Linked DNA regions of Homo sapiens. The protein of the gene in region 2 interacts with the protein of the main gene of each other region in a pairwise test. Each region holds a gene or a part of one and is shown on either strand. Other genes may lie near its edges.

Evidence for each region. Proteins that work in one complex are often made in the same cells at the same time.
Region 1: the proteins of FOXP2 (region 2) and TBR1 interact in a two-hybrid assay, tested with the Homo sapiens proteins (2 studies listed by BioGRID and IntAct, with this or other methods).

Annotation. Positions count from the first base shown.
Region 1 is NC_000002.12:161,419,269-161,426,296, reverse strand, and holds the end of TBR1 (T-box brain protein 1), read right to left. Parts: intron 6,102-7,028; coding exon 6,040-6,101; intron 2,929-6,039; coding exon 2,070-2,928; 3' UTR 427-2,069; downstream 1-426. UniProt on the Homo sapiens protein: Transcriptional repressor involved in multiple aspects of cortical development, including neuronal migration, laminar and areal identity, and axonal projection.
Region 2 is NC_000007.14:114,417,789-114,424,816, reverse strand, and holds part of FOXP2 (forkhead box protein P2), read right to left. Parts: intron 1-7,028. UniProt on the Homo sapiens protein: Transcriptional repressor that may play a role in the specification and differentiation of lung epithelium. May also play a role in developing neural, gastrointestinal and cardiovascular tissues.

The sequences.
Region 1 (7,028 bases), on a different chromosome or scaffold from region 2:
CTATTTTGACATGCATTTAAATTACACCCTACTTTTGGCCAACGCCTCCCGCCTTACTCTGTGAAATTTAAAGAAATTCTTAACTCCTTATTTAAAGAACCTCCTTTTCCTGTTCGCATTATTTCCAACTTCAGAGAGAATCAGATAAATATGATGAGAAAAGTGCATATGTTTTCCTGAAAAAAGAAAATGAGCGCAGAAAAGTGAGACTTGGCTCATAGGTAGCTAAATAATTATAAATAAGAAGAAAAAAGTAGCTCCTGGAAGTACTATAAAACAAATTTAAGGGGGGAATGGGAGGTGGCTTCCATTAAACAGGCTGCCCATATTGGAGTGGGGACGGGCTAGTCTTCCTTAACCCTTAAATATCATCACCTATAATAATTAAATTATTTTCAAACTGTAAACTGCTTTCAAACACCATAGTTAGCGTTTTTACCAGGTTTATTTTACTTGTTATACACAGACGATACAAACGAGCAAAAAACAAAACGTTTCTCAATGGAGTGTGTTCTTGTATAAATTATTCAGTTCACAGACAAAACGAAACAAATATAAAAATCACAACATTAGATTTACAGAAGAGCCAAAATATACACACGTTTAGACCCTGAATTCCTATTAGGAAAAATCCCCCCATGGACTGGAATCTAGATTGAATATTGTGTATGATGCATATTTCACATTAATTTTTAAATACAAAAAAGTATAGGTTTGCTACACAACATTAGAAATCCTACTAATCTATTTCCAGGGGGATTAATGCTCCTTATCAAATATAACAAGACTTAGGGGAAAATCAGTCTTACTTGCATTAATGCTAGTGTTCTCCCAAGGAAGTCAAATTTCAGCTGTTTCTAGGTGGTGGGGAAGTCATTTTCAAAACTAAAATGCAGTAAAATATACAACTCACACAATTCATCTTCACTAGACTACACTATAGTTACCAACAATTCAGTCATCTATATCATTAATAGAGTATTCATTACAAAGATTTACAGCATATAAAGGTGAAGGGGTACTGAAAGATATTCAGAAACAGTTTGTCAGCATATTTGGCACCTGCACAGACCAGTAATGGATTTGGCACTTTGGGGAAAAACAAATAAGGCAAAATAATATTGCTGATGTCGAGCTATTCTATTTAGAAGGTGGGGGGAACATACAACTCCAGTTGACTTTGCTTTGCAGGCATCATGCCACTTAATCGACTTGCCTATGAACAGACACCTATCCTTTAAAGGTGTTTGGGTGGATTCTCCTTAGCTATTTGTGTGCATTAGGGCACATAGTAATTATTTCATGCAACGGATTGAGGAGAAGTGGGAAACCCATCACTACTGAGTATTTCATGTTTCTAGAGCCTCTTAGAATATTATCTCACAAGAAAATTAAAAGAGAGAGAAGAGAAAGTATGAGAGGAGAGAAAGAAAAGCAAAGAAAGGAAAGGAAAAAAAGGTTAAGCATGAACTGGTTTTGTGCCTTGACGAGAATAAAAACTAGCCATTCGTTACAATAAATTAACACTATGTACAATCATTTCACAGGCTTTGTTCCACTAAAATTATTAACATCCCTACCATCCATCCATCCATCCATCCACTCGGGGATAAGAAAGGACGCGCTGGGTGGGTCCAGGTTCTAGAGTCAACATCCTATGGTTAATGTGGAGGCCGAGACTTGGCGGGTCGGAATCGCTGCTGCCTGACAGGACTGCCCAGGTCTCCTAAAGGTGAAGAGTTTCATTACAAGAAAGAGAAGTAGGAGGTAAGAGAAAGACGAGGGGGAGGGGAATTGTAGGAGGATAACTCCACAGAAGAAGAGTAAGTAGGAAAACCAAAAGGTTTACAGCAAAGTTGAAGGTCGGTGAGCTAATTGCAGAGACTGCTGTGCAAAAAAGGTTAAAATCACGCTCGGAGACCTGCACTTATTCGCTGCAGACGGCCATCGAGGGTCAAATAAAATGAGTGGGTGCGCAAGGAGGAGTGTGGGGAGGCGGAGCTGGGGAAGAGCTGTGAGGGGCTGGCTGGGGGTCCGGGCCGCGGCGGGGCCGGGCGGGCAGGGGCGGCCTAGCTGTGCGAGTAGAAGCCATAGTAGCCGCTAATGTCCTTGGCGCAGTTCTTCTCGCAGTCCCGCTGGGCCAGCACCTCGCTCTTGAGCGGGGACGAACTCTCGGACACGGGCGTGTCGGCCGGCGAGATCCGCCTCCGCTTGGCCTGCTCGTAAATCCCCGAGTCGCTGGAGTCGATGGACTTGATCGAGGAGGGCGTCTCGATCCAGCTGGAATCGGACAGGTCCTTGGGCTTGGCGTCCTCGGCGGCGCCGGGCGGCAGCGGCGAGCGCTCGGCGGCCAGGCCCTCGGCCTCCTCGCCCAGGTAGGGATTGGCGCCGGCCATGCGCGCGGCGGCCGCGGCGCTGTTGGGCCAGCAGGGCAGCACCGAGCCCGACTTGGTGCCGCAGTACTGCGGGGGACTGCGGGCGCCCCAGCCCGACGGGTCGGCGTAGTAGCCGAGCGGGCGGCCAGTGCAGCCTGCAGCCTGCAGCGGCAGCGCCTTCACGCCCGCCGCCGCGTAAGAGAGCAGCGTGGCCGCGTTGCCCGCGAAGTCCGTGGCCGTGTCATAGGCCGAGGCCGCGAAGTCCAGCCGGTTGTTGGCCGGCGTCACAAACCAGCGTTGCGGCGAGGGCGCGCCCGGGTCCTCGGCCTGCTGCGGCGACAGCAGCCCGTTGGTGTGCGGCACGCTGCGGTCCGTACCCGGCCCGGGGCCCGCGCCCGCGCCCGGGTGGAAGCGGGCCTTGGCGTAGTTGCTCACGAACTGGTCCTGCAGGAAAGAGCCGGCCATGGCGTAGCGGGCCCCGGGCACGATCTGCGAGCGCGGCGAGTCGTTGGGCGAGGGGGTCAGGCGGTCCATGTCACAGCCGGTGTAGATCCTGCGGGGTAGGGAGAGAGAGAGAGAGAGCCGAGGGGTGGCGCGGAGGTCCCTTGGGGTGGGGGTGGGGGCAGAAGGGAAGGCCACCTCCACTTTTCGCCCACCCCCACACCCTCCATCTACAAACTTGCAGTCCAGGATTTCCTGGAGAATACAAGAGGCCACAGACCTCTATCATTCCCAAAATAAATCACGGAATTATAGAGGAGCCAATCTGTCTATGCAGGGACCTGAGCAAGATACAGACCATCAAGGGAACGACTTCCCTCTTCTCTTGCTCTCTCTCGTCAAGTGTACTGGGGTACTGAGAGAGGGGCACAAGCAAGGACTTTCATCCCACTTCTCCAACATATGTGTGCACATTAAGGCAGATTTACCTAGGGAGTAAGATGCTCTTTGCCCAGTGGGCCTTTCCTCTGCGGTCAGTTTATGAGTGAAATTTCTAAGCAAGGTACTCACTCCTCCACCCTTTTAAGACCTCCTGTGTCCATTTGATTGTTCAGGTGATATCTCTCCTTTTTCTAGATTGTTTCAGAAACCCCTAGGAAAAAGCCGCGCACGCAGTAATCATGAAAGACTGGCCTTCACCCGTGTTCTGGAACCCGAGGTTTGCTGCTGGAAGCCTCCAAAGTACTTAGTGTCTATTGTTTCCCCTGTGTGAAACTTTCACTCCCACCTCTACTAATACAAACAAGAATTACTACTCTGAAACAGTAGTCATCAATCAGAAATATTCTCTTAAGAGAAAAGGTGTTCTTTACTCTGACCTTCTTTTCCTAGCTTTTGGTCCGTTACCCGCAGAAACTTCGGGGCAAACCTACAGTGTACTTATCAGCCTACTCCATGCAATGGACCACTAATAATAGCTAACCTTTACGGAGCTCGACTATATGCCAGGCACTGTGAGCTAGGTAACTTTTATTATCCCACTTTACCGATGAGGAAATTGAGGCAAAAGGAAGTTAAATAACTTGCCCAACCAGCGACAGTGATTGTGTTGTTGGGAATTACCTTAGATAAAATAATCAAAGATTAACTTTAGGCCCTGGGCCTAGAAAATCCCATTAGAATTGAGAGGAAACCAAGGGTTGGATGAAGATTGGTAGAAGTGTTTTCTCATACACATGCACACATGCCTCCCTTTTTATTTAGCTCACACATAAATGTTTTAATCTTTAGTCAACAGACTGTTTTGAAGGAGAGCCTCAGTCTTGTCAGACCTTAATCCTTTGGGGAGGAGATTCCCTGGTGAGTGGCCAAGCAAGCTCCTAGTACCCCATGAACCCTTATACTTCTCCCTCTTTCTCCAAAATTGAGCCATGTCCAAGTAACCAACGTAAAAGGGGAAAGGAAGAGTGTCATGAACCACTCAACTCTTCTCTGTCCCCTAAAAATCTCAGGTTTGTGTGTGTGTGTGTGTGTGTGTGTGTGTATAGATAAAGAAGCTTTTATGAAAGATTTAAAGTGATTTAAGATCAAAGAGGAGTGGCTTTTCCAACAGAAGGCAGCCAGAGGAGGAGGGGCATGTGAGAGTTTTGCTGTGGCTGCTCAGGTCCGTTCTGTTTAGTGCACAAAATTTCCCTTCTGAAATTGAATTCCAGTTTCAAATAAGAGAAGTAGAGGGAGGCAGGAAGGGAACATAACTAGCAAGGTGCAAATATCTTCTCTGTTTATCACCACAATATTTTAAAAAGAAAAAAGCAGTCCGCAAAAGATACAGTTTAGATGCCTATCCAGGTCCCACCCACTTGGGATTACTGAATTGATTTGTGCAAAATAAAATGCTTTTGAACAGATGTTCACAACAGAATTAAAATCTCAAAATCTACAGGACTCTCCTCTAACATCTCTAGTCTCTTGAGCCATATACTTTCCACTGTGCTGGGCACACCTTTTTAGATTGTGAGGAATAGAGTAGCCAAGTTTTTATTCTGGGGAATCATATTGATGAGACTTGGTTCCTTTGGAGTACTTTTGAAGAATATATATGGTGGTTATAGGCAGTAATATCAATGACTCTCTTTTAAATTATTAGAAAATATCAGGAGGGATGGTTGGTATCTGCTTGGAGATGGAATAGAGGCAGTCACTTGTCTCTTTCTCCACACATTTAATCTATGCTAGTCAAAGGCAGCTTCAACTTTTTAGCTCTGTCTCAGGCGCTCAATGTAAGCCACGAAATTAAGATGTATGTACCCTTTCCTTTTATGGTCAGAAAACGTGGGGGAACCCCACAATCCAGATTTAGATTTATGACACTATCTGAACTCTTAGGCACTATGGACCCTGAGTGAGAATTGCAGAACAAGCCCAGAAAGCATTCAGTTTACACCTACTGTTGGCCCCAGAGAACAGCCTTTTGATAGAAAGGAGGGAGGTAAGGGAGGCCTAAAGAAAAGGGCACCAGCATGTTTAATTAAAACACACCTAGATACAAAACAAAGAGGAAATATTTTTCTTTTGAAGCTTATAAATAATACACAGCAACACCGTCTGAATCTTTCCGAAAGCCTAAAATGACCATAACAGCGGTTCTGCTCATGAACTCGCCTGTGGTGGGTGCACATTTGTATTCAGTCCGTAGCCAACTTGCACAGGAAATGCTATTATACAAAACTTGGAAATGGGTAAATAAAGGTCGCATATGCTAAGGAGACTGTTAACAACTGCCAGAGGAGCCACATGCACTTTTAGGCAGAATTGCCCGTTTCAGACAGACATAGACAATCTGAGCTGAGCATCTGCAGCGCCACATACAGTACTCGCACCCGAGAACCAGGGCAGCCTCCCCAGCCAGCCAGCCAGCCCCAGAGGCCCACCAACAACTTTGTAATCCACAGGAAAGTTAAAATTAGGTGGAGGAAACCTCTGACCAAAAACCACGCAAGTACCAAGCCACAAGGTCACCAGAGAGAAGGGGAGCCAACCAAAAAAAAAAAAAAAAAAAAAAAGAAGAGGAAGAAGAAAGAAGAAAGACGAAGAAGAAGAAGTCCTCTAAAACAACCTTGTCTTCACACATTCCAGCTTTCAAAATCCTTGTACATAATAATACACCTTTGACCTAAAGCCCAATTCCACAGCTATTTGAAAAGGAAGATACAAAGTTACTTACGTGTCATAATTATCCCGAAATCCTTTTGCAAAAGGGTTGTGATCTATTTTCAGTTGTGTAATCTGGCAAAGAAAAAAAATGAATGTTATCTCACCTTTTATACGTGAAGACTGGGTGTTTGAGAATATATCATCTGCCACTTTTACAGGGGCTTAAGGCCTACAATTTATTAAATAGCAAGGTTTTCCTAACTGAAAAATTTGAGGGATTGAGTGGAAAGGAAAAAAAGAGAAAGTATCATGAAAGTTATGAGGAACATGTTTAAATTAATGATACCTATAGCCAAAGAACTGCTTTCAATTAGCTCTCCTGTGTTTTCTAAATTTGTTCAAACTCACATTTTAAAAATGCTTGTTACACACAATGCACTTGTTCAGACAAAAATCTTTAAGGAGAACTTGAATTCATCACTAAATGTTGACTATTTTAAGTATTTTATATTTTAAAACGTTTGTCGCTTCTGACTCACAACCTGAGAAACCACAAGTTGCATCTTAAAATCAGGTTGGATTTAAAAGCATGTTTTAATTTCTGATATTATCATTTAAGTAAAAAAAAGAAACAAACACAAAAACCCCTATCACTCCTAGTAGTCAAATCAGCCACTAAAATCTGTTTTTGCAAACTTGAAAAATCAGAAGTGGTTCAAGTGCTAGAAAGCTCAATCCATAGCCCTCAGTAATTTGATTTATTGTAGTTTTCACATATATGAATGTGTATGTTCTTTTGATCTCCCAGAACAGTGATGTTTGTTCATTTCAGCCATCAGTTCTGAGATGAAAAAAAGAGAGAGAGAGAGAAATTTTTTTTTAGATGCCAAAGCTTGCCAAGAATAAAATGCACGGGGAAATCTGCTTGTTTTCTAAAGGAAAGAGAGAATTTTTTTTTAAAGTAGATTTTAATCTGTTCTAGTTCAAAGCCCAAATTAAAACTCCCAAAAGAAGAGTCTTTAGAAATCCTGGCCACCTCAAAGGTGGCCCGGGTGACCA
Region 2 (7,028 bases):
AAAACAACAGAAAACATGAGCAGAAAGGAAATAATTGCTGTAACTATAGTAAACAATTTTTGAGCGAAATGTGTTTATAAACAAATAGGTTTTGCTAAACATCTTATTGAACATTAACAAAGAAAAAATCATATAAATTAAAACTGATACATAGTGATGGATTTTATAAGAAAAAAACAAAGCTAATACTCTTTTCTGAGATTAGGCAGCTAATAAGTATTCAAATTAGGCATAAATTTTACATGCACAATGTTTAAAATATTCAGAGAAAAGGTCTGATTGCCTTTACTAGTTATATGAAAATTATAATTTCAATCCTCTCCAACTGTAGAAACAGATAGGCATAACTTTTACATATTGCATTTAAATTTTACTTTTGAGAACATGTCTGGAATATGTGTATATATGTGTATGTTTTTATTTCATCACCTAAGTTATTTGAAATATTTATTGTTTCTGGATGGAGTTAGCAACACAAGGAATAAAAATAAAACACTATATTTTCCAGTGTAGCAGACAGGTGCAGCATTTACTACTAACCTTTGTGTAGTAAATCTCAGGACCAATTGGATGAATTAAAGAATTCTACATGTATTACTGTGTCATAATCAAGGCCATCAAATAATTAAGAATAATCAACAAGCAAAGAGGCATGTGTCTAAATCTTTATTACAATTACGAAGAAAGACCTAAATAACTTATAATTCCTTTTAACTAAAGGATTTTATTCTTAGCCCTTGTGGAGTTTTTAACTTTATAAAACCCTACAGTATAAACTGTTATTTACATTTTAAGTTCAATCATCTAAGAGTTAGTAAAATAATGCTTAAGAAAACTATAACAGTGATAGTACTTTTTGCTCTACAAAAGAGGAGTATCTGATACAACACTTATATGAAAAAAGAAGGGTGATTGTGTAATTAGATGATTATACTGTACATTTCACTTAAAAAAGCTTGGAGTATGTTCACTATAAAGGAGGAATTTTTCAAGGACAATGCAGATTATTTCTAGCATTTACTAAGTTTCTCTTGGTAACACTTCCACTTATTTCCCAATATAGGAAATATTTCCAGCACAATGTGAAGTGCTGTTTACCTTTTAAGTATATTTTAAATAATAATAAATTCAGCATATTCTTTCAGAGTGGATGTGCTTATGATCCGAAACATACCAAGCTAAATTATTCATTCTTATCAATCCCACCACAAACATTTTACAAAAATCAGTGAAAATAAATTCCAGATCATTAAAGGGAAAGATGAATCTGGGAGTCCCTGTTTTAATGTTTGTCTGAACTGTAAGTTAAACCCTTAAGTCTTTCATCGTACACAACTTTTCAGCCACATCAGAAAATAACTCTTCAGATCTTACACTCAAACGATACAGTTAGACTTTTCTCCCCTGCATTAAGTTTTCCTTCCTTTCCTTTTTCTTTCTTCTTTTTTAAGCAAGTCACTGTACAGATACTTATTCTCTACACCACTTCCCTTTTGAAACATTAAACTGACACTGGAACTGACTGCACAAGATTGCATTTTCTCTTCCTAAACAACTTGAATTGAAAGGTTACTTAGTGTAACAATATTTACTTGCAGAATTGTGTTGTTACCAAGGGTATAATGGATGGTGGCTATGCAGGTTTACGCAAGAATGAGTGAAGCATGAGGCATTAGCCATGTGTTTGACATGTTTCAAATTGCTATAATCCAGCATTAAACACACCCAGCAATTCATGCCATTTCTTGCAGCCATAATCTTGAATAAAGCGTGCACAACCACTTATTATATAAATTAGTATATGACTCCCTGTTATAGTCACAACAGTGCTTTTGTGTTTATTTTGCATCAAGATGTAGTCTTTTATTTGTACAAATAGCAGGATATAAAGACATAGCTCAATTAGGCCTCCTTACTTTATGATAGGGTAGTACTGAATGCTAGACTTGTTGGTTTTATTTCTTCCTCGTAGAGTTATATGTTCTATTGGTATAAAACTGTATCATGTGAGATAGTTACATGCCAGAGTGATAACAGAAACCTGCATGTATCCTATTCCGTATTCGCAGCAATGTTTAAAAGTTTGAAACTTGACCTGGACAAGCATAGTTAATTGTGTTATCTCAGCCACCACCAGGGACACTACTGGTCCTTGTTGCTTACTCAACTTTCTCTATGGTCTTCTTTCTCATCTCTTCTCCTTCCCTGTTTCTTATGCTCCCTATCTCTTTTCCACTCCACATTCCCATGTGTATATGTGTGCACATGAATATGTGTATCTATATATGTTTATAAAGATAGATCAATCAATCTGTCTATGTATGTCAGGGATTATAAAGAAGATAAAAATAGCCTCTACTTTGAACCACACTCTGCATTCTACATAAACAGTCTGTCTTATAATCTTAGTGCCTTAATATTAACTCTCATTTTGGTGGAGGAGTCTTACTATTTAATCAAAACAAATGGATGAAAAAAAAATGACTTCCCAGAAAACTAAGAACAAATAACAGTACATATAAAACATTTCTAACAATTCATTTCGTCAACTTTTCTTAAACAAAATGATTACAGTGACCTTGAAAGACACTTTATGTCTAATATCTGATTCATTCCAGTGTCCAATTTATTTAATCAAACATATGCATTAAATCCAAATAGTTTTGAATATGACATTTTAAGAAAAGTAAGGCATCAAATTTAAAACATATATTCTTAAATACCTCCTTAATCTTTGATCAATTATCAATATCAAATATTAAATATTTCTATGCAGATTCACACAAGAAAGAGTTAAATATTAAGAAAACTTAACATATGTAACAAGAAACCTCATACGTTTACCTCAAAATATTAGTTAAGTTCTAATTTTGAAAACTTGACTGTGATTTAAAACTTCTGAAAGAAACTAGCGTTTAAATAATGATAACTCTTGTGCTCTAGTGGAATTAATTCATCATAGGCACCATGCATAGTGCATTTGAGATCCAGCACTGCTTTGCTAAAAGTCTTTAATGCTAAGATTGCCTAATAAATCAAAATGCCAAATATGAAGGATATAGTTGAATGTGTAAGAACAAAAATTGAAACAGCACATGAATATTTTCAATTTTTAAAAACTGAAGCAGGATGTCTTTTAAAACATGATTTGGGGAAGGTTATCTGTTATAGCAAGTGATATTTTTACTATACCAAGTGACATAATTTTAAGTAAATTAAAATTAACTTGTTTATTAAGTATTTGTTACTACTTTTTACTTATTTAAACAAAATGCCTAAAATGCTATACACAAATTAGAAAAAAAAACACTTTAGTAAAAATTCAGACTTTCATTCAAAAAGGTTAATATTTCAAACATGCAAAGTAGAAGGACATTTTAACAAAATATTTTTTAAATGATAATGACTACATTTTAGCAAAGATAATACTGTTAGATCTTCAACAATAACAAAATCTAGGAAACATAAGTAAAGCCAATGAAAAACTTATCTTCCATTTCAATCAGCTATTAATTAACTTAGCAACTAAGTATATTATATTTTGCTCCTGGATAAAAAATAAAATAAGTTTAAAATGGAAACAAAACATAAATATTTAATTATGAAAATATTATAAAATACTAAAATTAAGTATTTAATCCCTATGCTATTTCACTTAAAGTGCAATGAAGAATTTGAAAGAATGGTGGCCATGTAGATGTATTTTACTGCAACATTATGATTCTGTATCTATAGTTCAGAAGCCCCCTTCAGAAGTATAATTGAAAGAGATTTTATAATACTATATTGATAATTCTGGTTAACTAATTACTCAAAAATATATTTCAAAATTATATTTTCACATTAATCTTCATATTCTAACATCTTGTCTTCACATTCATATAATTTCTGTATATATTTATTTCTCAAACATGTAAAAATGTACACCAATTTTTACTTTTCAAGGTACATGCTAAATTGTCAGTCTTCCTTTTAAATATATAAATTTTAATGTTAGTTTAATTCATTAAATCATTTAAATGTTTTAAAATCAATCCTTTATAGCATTAATATTTATTTTTTCAAAACAAGGGGGATAGGAAGCTTAGGGAAAGTTTATTTCACCCTGCTACTTTATAACCTCTGACAAATTGAGTTTTCATTAATTTATAATGCCAAAATGTAATATTTTTTGCAATGTGTTATCCTATCTAACTGTATGTCTTAGATATGTAAGAGGAGGACTTAAAAACTAAAGAATGTTACCTAGTTGCCAATACAAAAATAAATACTGGCTACAGTTTACAAGACACCAGGTAAGCAAGTATATTCTGTCACAGATTTTCTTGTCTTTGCCTGAAGAAGAAAAATTGTCAAATCCTGCAACCAGGAATATTTTCGTTTAGGAAACAGAATTTAACAGTAAAAATGTAAGGCAATAAGAAATAATTAGCTCTCCAAGAACATAGAAAGACCTGCCTAGCAGGCAAAACCTCCCTCTTTTTTATTTAAAAAGCTTAGTGATTGAGTTGTGCAAGCTTGCAAGCTTCCATGCAGTGGGTCCACTTACAGTCAAATTCCCAAAGGCTGGACTACTTGCAATAGCCTTCACTGATCCCCTGGCTAATGAGAGCTCTGAGTATGTACTTCTCTTGTGATGGCATTTTCACCTTTCCTGCCACATATCTTTCCTTAACCCTCAGGCTTACTTTACTTCAATCTTCAGTCTCCCGCCCACAGCAACTCCCTGGGATCCCTTGCTGTTTTTCCTGAGCATAATACAGCTCTTCCACGGATCCTCATTCTCTTGCCCTTTCAGCACTTTTTACTTCCAGGCTATCTTTTGGGTGCCAAATGTCCCTTTAATACTGCTCCTCAGCAGACCCACCTCTTGCCTTCCCATTGGAAGACCCACAGCATAGGCGGTACGCTTAGAGAAATTTCTTCCACCGGTCTCAACTTAGTGCAAAAGTCCAACATGAGCCTAGCAGGTGGATGCAATGGTAAGGCCAGAATTTTAATGTAACCACATGATTGTGTTGAATGGAGTTTTAGAATCTGGTCAGGAAACTGCTTTTGTCCTTTCTGGGGTGTGTGTGTGTGTGTGTGTGTGTGTGTGTGTGTCTATGTGTATGTAAGCGACCTGTCACAGAGGTTTTTTGACGGCATAGTTTCAAAATAGTTTATACGTTATTCTTGAGATTGAACTTTATTTTAGGCATTAGAATAAACATTTTTATACTTAGCTTCCACTAATGTTAGCATGAGTCACACTCATACCATGGTCTGATCTAAATAGCAAGTATGCTATAAGGATAAATAACTGTGAGGGATGTAGGGTAATTTATACTCTGGCATCAAGTGTGTATAAAACAAGTGACTATGAAGCAGACCTACTCCAAAAACACCTGTATTAACACACAACATGTAACTATTTTAAACTGTTTTAAATGTTAGCACACATCAGAATATCAAAACATGGCATAAACCTTTCCGTCAAATTTCAAACCTAAACTTGCTGTTTGCAAGTATTTCTTGTCCTATGTAAAATGAAATCCACCTATTTTGGATGAATTCACTATTGCTGCCAAACAATAGAAAATGCCAATAACAGTATGTCATAAAGTATATATTTAATACACATAGATTATCAAAATTTGACATACTACATATGTATATACATGCATATACTTGACATACATATACCTATAACAATTGCCTTTATATGCACAGTCAGTTAGCATAGATGTATTCTGTAACTTAGCATTTAATAATACAGGCAAAATGCAGGAAAAATATAGCCAGTTGATAAAAGCAACTGAGAAGAGTGTGTGTTTAGCATTACAATTTAATGCATTTAGACAGAAAAATTTTACATTATCATTTGTCAGTTTTATTTTAATTACTAGTCTTTCAGTTAGAGCTCTAGGAAACACACTGTTATTCCAATTTAGAAGAAAGTCATTATGAGTTCTTACAGAAGAATCAGAAGGCAGATTGGAGGCACCTGGGTTTATTGAAATAGCCACATCATTCTTATAAGTATACTTAAAACATTTGCCTCAGTTTAACTAAACATGAAAGATATACGCCTGAATCCTTTGCGATCGACAGGTTCTCATAAAAAAAAGCCATTGACCTTCTGTATAGCTTTTTTTTTTGAACCCACAGCTTCAATCATCACCAGAAAGTTCTTTAAAACACTACAATAGCTTTGTTTCTTTTCTGCTTTAATTAGCCTTCATGACGTCTGTTCTGTGAGTTTCCTTTTCTCTTTCTTTTTTTCTTCTATGGTTCCTAAAGATTCAAATGTCTGAGAAAAAGAACTTTGTAATACTAACAAGAGTCACTACAACTTCTTTAGAAGAAGGTGAGTGGATGTAAAGTTAATGATCGAAGCAGACACAAACCTCGCTAGCCACAGAATCTTGCCGAAGTAATACAGAGACATAGCTCATCATGACGTTTCCAGTTATTTCTAGCTGATTAGGGTCATTATGTTGGAGGGCTGATTTATGTTGTCATTCCCTCTCACCAGTCCTGCATCAATAGATCTTAATGAATTGGTAAATAAGGGTGAAGATTACACTTGACAACACAGAAACATTTCTCATTCATACCAGACAAGATTTATGTAACCAATTAGGACATAACAGGAGAAATTGGTCAGAAGAAAAATAATCTTTCCAGAAGAAAATTACCCAAGTCCAAACCTCTACAAAAACAGATAACCACTGGAGTTTAATATCAGCTCAATCATGAGTATAACGCCTTGTTGTTCCTTTTAAAGGAATATACCCTCACAAAAATCTGAATGCACAGAAAGTTTTTGAAAAATGTATTGCAATGTCTACTTTCTACAACATTTTAAGATGCAATAAAGTACTTTTCACAAAGTAGAAACATCTTGGGGCATAGCACTTTACTGTATATCAGTTCGTGTATTTCTTTCATAGTATCATTTCCAAGTGTAAGAATGCTATAAGAAAATACCAAAAATGCATGCATTTGTCAGTTTCTAAAGAATGATCATTACCAAAAAAGGTTTC